Regions from separate parts of the Homo sapiens genome. Here region 2 is linked to region 1. Evidence: fine-mapped expression QTL. Tissue or cell type: whole blood. Region 1 holds a variant in brackets; the other region holds the start of a gene. All regions are shown on one strand. Distances are between the middles of the regions.

Evidence for each region. PIP is the estimated chance that this variant, and not a neighbour inherited with it, causes the effect.
Region 2: it holds the start of FUCA2, and the variant in region 1 is fine-mapped to the expression of FUCA2 in whole blood (INTERVAL, PIP above 0.99).

The regions. Positions count from the first base shown.
Region 1 is chr6:142,943,453-142,947,615 of GRCh38, reverse strand. It overlaps HIVEP2 (HIVEP zinc finger 2), which reads left to right and starts at 2,440. Exons shown (of 10, transcript NM_006734.4): 1 at 2,440-2,517. It overlaps HIVEP2-DT (HIVEP2 divergent transcript), which reads right to left and starts at 1,127. Exons shown (of 3, transcript XR_001744397.3): 1 at 1-1,127. RefSeq lists silencers at 1-360, 941-1,160, 1,211-1,840, 2,071-2,300, 2,501-2,600 and 1 more. The variant G/C (reference allele first, on the strand shown) is at 1,697.
Region 2 is chr6:143,509,996-143,514,158 of GRCh38, reverse strand. It overlaps FUCA2 (alpha-L-fucosidase 2), which reads left to right and starts at 2,439. Exons shown (of 7, transcript NM_032020.5): 1 at 2,439-2,748. The coding sequence starts at 2,525. It overlaps LOC105378035 (a long non-coding RNA gene), which reads right to left and starts at 2,374. Exons shown (of 4, transcript XR_007059796.1): 1 at 1,383-2,374; 2 at 1-1,165. RefSeq lists enhancers at 1,479-2,139, 2,161-2,340, 2,451-2,580, 2,140-2,802 and a silencer at 3,003-3,206.

The sequences.
Region 1 (4,163 bases):
GTCTCTTGTTTACTCCGCCCCGGGCAGGGCGGCGGCGCGGCCAGGGGGTGGGGAGGACCGCTGGGGCCCGCGGCGTCCTGGGCGCTCGGCTCTGCTCCGCAGGGTGCGGGGGCTGGGGCGCCCGCGAGGTGCTGCGCGCGGTCCCCGCTGGGGGGGAGACCACCCGGAGGAGGCGCTCCGGGACCCGGCCCCCCTCCCCAGCAGTCACTCGTCGCGCTCGGGCACCGTGGCACCCTAGGAACCTCCCCCGAGGGTGCACACCAGTCCACATAGGCAGGGTAACGGCCCGAGAGAGCCCCGGTGTCCCCCGGGTGTCGCCCGGCCGGGGAGGAAGCCCAGAGCTTCGGCTCCCACTCGCCTGGGATTCCCCCGCCTCCCGGCCCCGCTCTCCCAGGGTTGGTTGTGATTTCAACTCCGGTCCCTTCCGTGGAGAGGGAAGCGCACAGGCTGAAGGTGGCAGCTCGCCCCGAGGTTCCAGCGCGGCCCACCAGGAAACCGGCAGCTGCTCTTCGCGCCGCTGCCCACACCTATTTGAATCCCCTGGCGAGGGCGGGCCGCGGTCCCCGAACTGGGGGTGCCGGGGGCACCCTGGTGAGTGACCTCAGGGAAGGTAATCCGGGCGTTTCGAGCACGTGAATAGTTCGCGCGCCCGCAGGGGCACGGAAAGTGCTAGTAAAACCCTACAAAGCTCCAGAAACCCAGCCGGGAGCCACAGTCTGATTTTGCTTTTCTTGACCGATAACATAATTGTGAGTAGAGGCAGGGGGCGAGGAGAGGCCAGGGATCCGGAGTACTGGTTCCAAATCTAAGGGCACTACTAATTATACAATTCCGTTCGTCAGGAAGGCAGACAACGATTCTCTGGGAAATGGGGAAGGGGTGGGGACGGAGGACGTTTCCACATCCTTAAAGGAAATTCTCAGGCTCCTAGAGATGCCCAAGTTTTTTTGCATGACAAGTAGAGACCAGCTCTCCGGGGAGTTCCCCGCTCCGACCGAGCGAGTGCGCGGCCGCGATCTCCCCGCCCGCAGCGGCAGCCGTGGGGCCCGGCCCTGCCCTCCCGACCGCCTCCCTCCCCCGTCGCCCCGCGCGCCGCACATCCCTCTCTCGCTCACTGGCTCCAGACTGGTTTTTCTGGTTCAGCCTCCCTCCCTGGGACGCGCTGGGGGATCCGATGACGTCGTTGGCTGAGTCTCTCCCTCTTCCTCCCTCCCTCCCTCCGCCTCTCCCCCCGTCCGCCCTCGCCGCGCACTCCTCCTAGTAACTTCTGTTCGGGGAGGCGCTGCCAGGAATAACCCGGTGCGTCCACAGCCCGGGAGGGGAGGCGGCCGCTGCGGCTCCCGCACGCAGACAGCTGCGGCCCGGGCCTCGCGGCTCCCGCCTGAGCCCGGCGGCCCCTGCCCCGGGCCCATCTCCGTACAGTGTCAGAAAAATAAATAAAGGCAAGAGGAGCCTGGGCTGGCGGTCGGGATCTTTTCCCTCCCTCCGCGCCCGCCCTCCCTCTGTCCTTAAGGAAATGCTACCAGACACCCCCCACCAGACACGCTCAGCCTTGGCGAGGAGCGGCCGCCGCGGCAGCGAGAACAAGGGCACCAGGGGGGTTTCCTCCCCCTCCTCCTCTCCCTCCTCCTCCCCGTCCTCCTTCTCCTCCTCCTCAGCGGTGACTTTCCAGGTGAGCGGCCGCCGCGGCTGCGAG[G/C]ATCCCCCTCGCCCGCTGGGGCTCGGGCCGCCGCGTCGCGCCCTCCTCCCGCCCCTGTCACCCGGCGGCGGCCGGGAGCTGACAGCCGCCCGAGGGGCTCGCGGCCCGGAGGCGGGCGGCCGGCGGGAGGCGGGCTGGAGGTGAGGGGGTGGAGAGGAGGAGAGCGGGGCGCCGCCGAGCGCCGTCGTTCCCCGCAGGAGGGTCTCCGCACAAACATCTTCGGTGACTGTGGCACAAGTCTTTGCCAAGTTGTGTCTTGGACCTTGACGCTCCACGGAGCCCAGAGCAACTTGGAGGGTCTCCCGGCTCGTTCACAGCGTTCCTCCACGTCTCGCGTCTGGGGTGCTGGGTGCAGCCTCGGGGTGCGCGGAGGGCGGACCGGCCACCGCGAGAGCGGAGCGGCGGGAATCTAGGTCCCTCCTCGGCTCGGTAAGTGGCCTGGACGCTGGGTTTTTCCTGCCTCCTTCGGCGCTGGGAGCTTGTTTCACTTTATATTGGAATCGCCGCCGCCGAACTCCGTCCCCCGCTCCCCGGCGTGTGCCCCCAGCCCCTTCCCGGTGGCCCGAGGGTGAGGGTCGGAGGGGGCGGGGATGGGGGAGACCGCGGGAGGGGTGTCGGGCGCGTGGGGAAATGCGGGGAATACCCTGGCCGCGGATCTATGCAGATGAGGGGAGGCTGCTTTGCGTAATGTCCTGGGGGGAGGGGGCCGCGCGGGAGCGCTGGAGGCAGGAATGTGCCTGCTTACTAATGAGCGACGTGCACCGGCGCGCACGGCCCGGCCACCGCTGCGGCTGCGGCGGCCGGCGGCGGCCCGTTGTCAGGTAGCGGGGGAGGGGGCCGCGGCGCGCGGCGCAGGCGGCCGGGCGGGCTGGCGGCGCGAGGCCCGGGCCGCCGGCCTGCGGCCGAGCGAGCGCAGCGAAGGCGCTGGCTCTGGGCATTTCAGTGACTCCCTTTACCTCCCGGGCAAGGAAGGAAGGAAGGAAGGAGCGAAGGAAGGAAGCGAGGAAGGAGGGGACTGTCTCGATGGAAGGTTCAGGCGGAGGCGCCCTCGCCTTGCGGGTGCACCGGCTGCAGAGCGGCTCTGGCCGCTGCCGGCTGGACCCGGGCGCGTGGAGACGGGTGGGGGCGGTTTGCATGCGTGTTTGTCTGTCCGTCTGGCGGGGGATCGGGAAGGGACATGTGTGTTTGGGCTGTGCACTGTGGGGAACTGGGTCTGCGCCTTTATGTCTGTTCCCTGAAGTGGGTGGAACGTTGGCCCGTTCCGGGAATGTTCCATGACGTGGTGCAGCCACAGGAAGGGGGTTAACGAGGGGCTCTCTGCCGCGGCGGCACTGCCGGCTGCTATCAAAGCAGATGTGCTGCTGCTGCTCCTCCTCCTCTTTCACCTCCTTTCACCCCCACCCCCCGCCTTTCCATTCTGTGCCTCTGGTACTGGTAGGGGTGAGACAGGAAAACATTGCTCTGGGTGTGTGCGTGTGTGTGTGTGTGTGTGGGTGTGTGGGGGAGGGGGTGCTGATGTGCATGTGTGGGGTCTGTCGTATTTGGTGGGGGGGGGGGGTGGACTCCAGATCCGCTCTGCTACCCCAGCTGTTATCACAGATCGGTGCGCTTTATACGCATGTGCCTCCCGCGTTCTGTCCCTCTTACATAACACATCCAGTGCAGCAGAGGACATGAGAAAATGCGACCCCAACCCTCCAAGCCCAAATTGGGTGAGGGGATAGAAGGTCAGGAAGCGTCCCTGGGTGTTGTCCTTCAGGGACTTGGTTCCCAGTGGGGGAAAGGAAGAAGGGAAGGAGGGTTTCTTCAAGTGGCTCCTCTCATCTCTGACTTAAAAGCATCTAACTAAAAAGGACTGCAGGCACTAGTCTTCCCTAACGGGAAAGCTTGTAACTAGCTACACCAAGGGAACGGGGGCACTTTAACCTCGGGAGTGCGGAGAAGAGAGAGGGTCCTTAATCAAGACACTTGGAGGAGAGAAGCAATAATGTGTGGGCGGCGGATGGGGGGCGCTGGGGATGACTTCGAGGAGACCAGAGGAATCTCTTGATAATAGGTTTCACTGGAGGCCTTAGGACACCTGTAATGGCTTAGCATTCACACAGGAAGTTGTGTGTGCAACTGACATTGCAAAACCCTTATTCTCTGCAGAGTTATTTAGGCCTAAAATGAATATAGAAAGGCTTGTTTCCTGTACTTTCATTATAATGGAAAATTTGAGCTGATTTTTCTCCTTCCTTTTCTGCCATTTTAAAAATAACTCAATTTACCTCCAAATGAATATTGGTACTCGCCCCCAACCCTAAAGCTGGACCTCAATAATTCACAAGAGATCTGTGTTTTTCTAGCATACCCAGAGCCCTAGTCAAGGGCTATTGATTTTTCTCCTCAATACAGTTGTTTCTTTTGTAGTGCATAATCAAGCCCAGACATTACTTGAAATATTAATAAGATCCATTTTAATTAA
Region 2 (4,163 bases), 570 kb before region 1:
TACACAAACTTCTGATTAGAGAGGATGTCAAGGCATAGTGGCTGAGAAGCCCATATTTTTGTTCAAGTGTGCCCCAGGGTTCAGTGGCCACTGAGGCCCTAGATCATTCTGGGTTCCACAAACTCAATAATAAATATTTGTCAGCCCAGGCACCGTGGCTCATGCCTGTAATCCCAGCACTTTGAGAGGCTGAGGCAGGAGGATGACTTGAGATCAGGGGTTCAAAACCAGCCTTGCCAACATGGTGAAAATACAAAAGTTAGCTGGAGGTTGGGGTCTGTAATCCCAGCTACTCGGGAGGCTGAGACACGATAATTGCTTGAATCCCCGGGGGTGGAGGTGGCAGTGAGTCAACACTGTGCCACTGCACTCCAGCCTGGGCAACAGAACCAGACTCTGTCTCAAATAAAAAAAAATTGTCATCTTTATCACAAACTGGAGCTATTGCAATTGGATTCGTTGAGCCCTTTCCTCTAGAACACCCTCACTGTAAAAAAACAAAACAAAATTGGGGACTCTTACGGTGGAGCTGTGGCCCCGGGGGGCCATCTGGCATGTCATGGAGAGGAAAAATGCCCCTACACCTGCAGTGACAGCGCCCTCTGCTGCTCCCATCTCTCTGCAGAGATGGGTTGGGATAATGCAGGCAACAGCCACTTAGTGTCAAGTTCTTCACTCAATAATTAGAACCCCAGTTCACTGGAGAGCTTCAACAAACATTTTGAGTGCTGCTTTTCTGCTGTAATTGTAGGCACTACAGAAAAGAAGGTCATTATGAATGCCCTCAAAAAGCTCACAGTCTGATGGGAAATCAGACCTGTACCACCTAGCTACTAGAGGATGCGTGAAATCCTATGTGTGCTTGGAAGGAGGTGTTATGAAGCAGATCAGGGAAAGTACAACATTCTGGGAGGGAAGGGTGGTGGCAGAAAGCTTCACAAAAGAAGCAGCATTTGAATTGGCTCATTGAAGGGTAATGATTTCATGGGGGCAGAAGCAGTTGAGGATTCTGGCTTTACTTTGAAAACACTTACGAGGTGGAGGAGAGGCTGGGCTTGGTGGCTCATGCCTGTAATTCTAGCACTTTGGGAGGCCAAGGCGGGCAGATCACCTGAGGTCAAGAGTTTGAGACCAGCTTGTCCAACATGGTGAAACCCTGTCTCTACTAAAAAAGAAAAGAAAAATACAAAAATTAGTCTGGCACAGTGGCATGTGCCTGTAGTCCCAGCTACTCTGGAGGCTGAGGCAGGAGAATCCTTGAACCCGGGAGGCAGAGGCTGCAGTGAGCCTAGATCATGTTACTGCACTCAAGCCTGGGCGAGAGAGCGAGACTCTGTCTCAAAAACAAACAAACAAACAAACAAACAAACAAACAAACAAACCAAACAAGAGGTGGAGGTGATAAGCTTCCCAAATATCCTTTTGATTAATCTTTCCAAGTTGCTGGCCTTTTTTCCCAAGCTTGCAGGTTTCTTAAACATTCATTCCACTGGTTTCACCTGTCTCAGATCATCTCCTTGTTCAATGCAGTGGTTCTCAGGAAAGTTTGGACCACCAATCAGAAACATCACAATTTTGTTTTCTTTCTTTTTTTTTTTTTTTTTGAGATGGAGTCTCACTCTGTAGCCCAGGCTGGAGTGCAGTGGCACCGTCTCTGCTCACTGTAACTGCCTCCCGGGTTCAAGCGATTCTCCTGCCTCAGCCTCCCGAGTAACTGGGACTACAGGCGTCCGCCACCACGTCCCGCTAATTTTTTGTATTTTTAGTAGGGACGGGGTTTCACCGTGTTAGTCAGGATGGTCTCGATCTTCTGACCTTGTGATCCGCCCGCCTCGGCCTCCCAAAGTGTTGGGATTACAGGAGTGAGCCACCGCGCCCGGCCCAACATCAGAACATCCTAGAAGTAGGAACTGGGTAGAAACGCAAATTCTTGGGCCCCAACCTAACTGCTGAATCTGAAGCTCTTGGAATTTCATCTGATACAAATTCAAGGTTGACAACCACGGTTCTAACATGCAGGATCTTGGGAGCTGATACAGAGGCCGAGAAGGATCTAGGTTGCTTTCCATGTTCCATCATGGCGAGACCCGGCTGAAGTTCCTGCCTTGACCTTCTCGTGCACGCTTCGGACGTGTGGAGCAGCCACCAGGGTGGGCTGGGGGCATTGTCTTCTTGGGCAGTTTCTTGGTCAGGGTCGTGTCTGCTTGAGGGCAGAGGCGCTGGCCACAAGGCCCTGACTCAGACTCATATTTTCCCCTCAAGAGGACAGAGCCTTAGCAAAGCCGTCCCAGCTGGCTTTGGGGTAATGCTGGCCTTAGTTATGCTGAGCGATGCAGCCCTCCTGAGGTCATTCGGAACGCCCGGGAGAGTGGCCACTCCCGCCCCAGAGGGGGAAGGGTGGCCGGTTTCCAAGTCCGACTTGGTCAGGTGACCGCGGCGCGGCATACTCAGCGGCAGAGACGGAAGAACAGCGCTCCCGAGGCCGCGGGAGCCTGCAGAGAGGACAGCCGGCCTGCGCCGGGACATGCGGCCCCAGGAGCTCCCCAGGCTCGCGTTCCCGTTGCTGCTGTTGCTGTTGCTGCTGCTGCCGCCGCCGCCGTGCCCTGCCCACAGCGCCACGCGCTTCGACCCCACCTGGGAGTCCCTGGACGCCCGCCAGCTGCCCGCGTGGTTTGACCAGGCCAAGTTCGGCATCTTCATCCACTGGGGAGTGTTTTCCGTGCCCAGCTTCGGTAGCGAGTGGTTCTGGTGAGTGCGCTCCCTTTTGTCTCGTCTGCCGCGCTTTTGTCCCCACCCGCAGCCTCCAGCCACCACCCAGCGGGCCTGGTTCGCCGCCTGGTGCTGCCTGCACCCTCGTCGGTTTCACCTCCCACTGCGTTACCCGCGTTTCGCACTTCCGGGTGTCGAATATGTGGTTTCCTGCCTAAGTGCTTCTGCTGGATGAACAGGGAATTTTTCTTCCGTGTGACTGTAAGAGTTTTCAGATACTCCTGACTCCTCAGCTTCTTCATAGTTGCGCATATTAAGCTGTAGTTATGACACTACAACATCGAGCTACTACAGACATTCATCAGTTTGTGCAGGGGCATCACACGAGCGGTGACTCAGGCACAATGGCCTATGGTTGCTCTGCTGCTACCTGCCAATTTACAGTCGTTCTGCCATGAAGTTATGGTTAAAACATAGTCATGAGTATGTGAAACGACTGTTCATTGAACACCATTGGCTACTTAATGTTAACATGTTACCCATGTGTGGCTCTAGGAACTTTTTAAAGAGGTTCTAGAATGGTACTCTTAACACAACCCAGTTATCATACTGCCGTATGAAAGGTGCTACACAAAAATCTGTGCGTTAGATTTTACCTTGAGATCTATGTGAAAATGTGCATGTAATTTCTTAAACTGTTGCACATGTCTTTTCTGACTAAATGCTACAAGTATTAAGTCCTTCAAAACAGAAATATTTTGTGTGCATATATAGAAACATACACATAATATATTCTTTTTTTTTTTTTTTTGAGACATAGTCTCATTCTGTCACCCAGGCTGGAGTGCAGTGGCACCATCTCGGCTCACTGCAACCTTCGCCGCCCGGGTTCAAACGATTCTCGCGCCTTAGCCTCCTGAGTAGCTGGGACTACAGGCGCACGCCACCATGCCTGGCCAATTTTTTTGTATTTTTTAGTAGAAACGGGGTTTTGCCATGTTAGCCAGGCTGGTCTTGAACTCCTGACCTCAGGTGATCCGCGGTGGCTCATACCTGTAATTCCAGGACTTTGGGACACATAATATATTCTTAAGTAAAAGAACGGAATCATTAAACAGTATTTATTTGAATCAACTATATACTACATAAATAGTATACATCCAAATTAACATACTATATTTAGTAGACACAATACAGAGTATGAACTATATATTATATTAACATTACATAGTATACATGGTACCATGCTCTACTCTAGGGGTAGAAAAATTACACCTCCATTCTGTTAGGGTCTCTGCTGGGTCCAAGAATTAAATTGACATTGTGTGACTAAATTATGTGGGGAGACTTAAATAATAAATTTTAGCAAGTTCTGTACAGTATTCTACTTCTTGTCTTTGAAGCTTAGGATGTTGCCTTTCCTTCTAGTACAGAGTGCCTTTCATACTGGAATT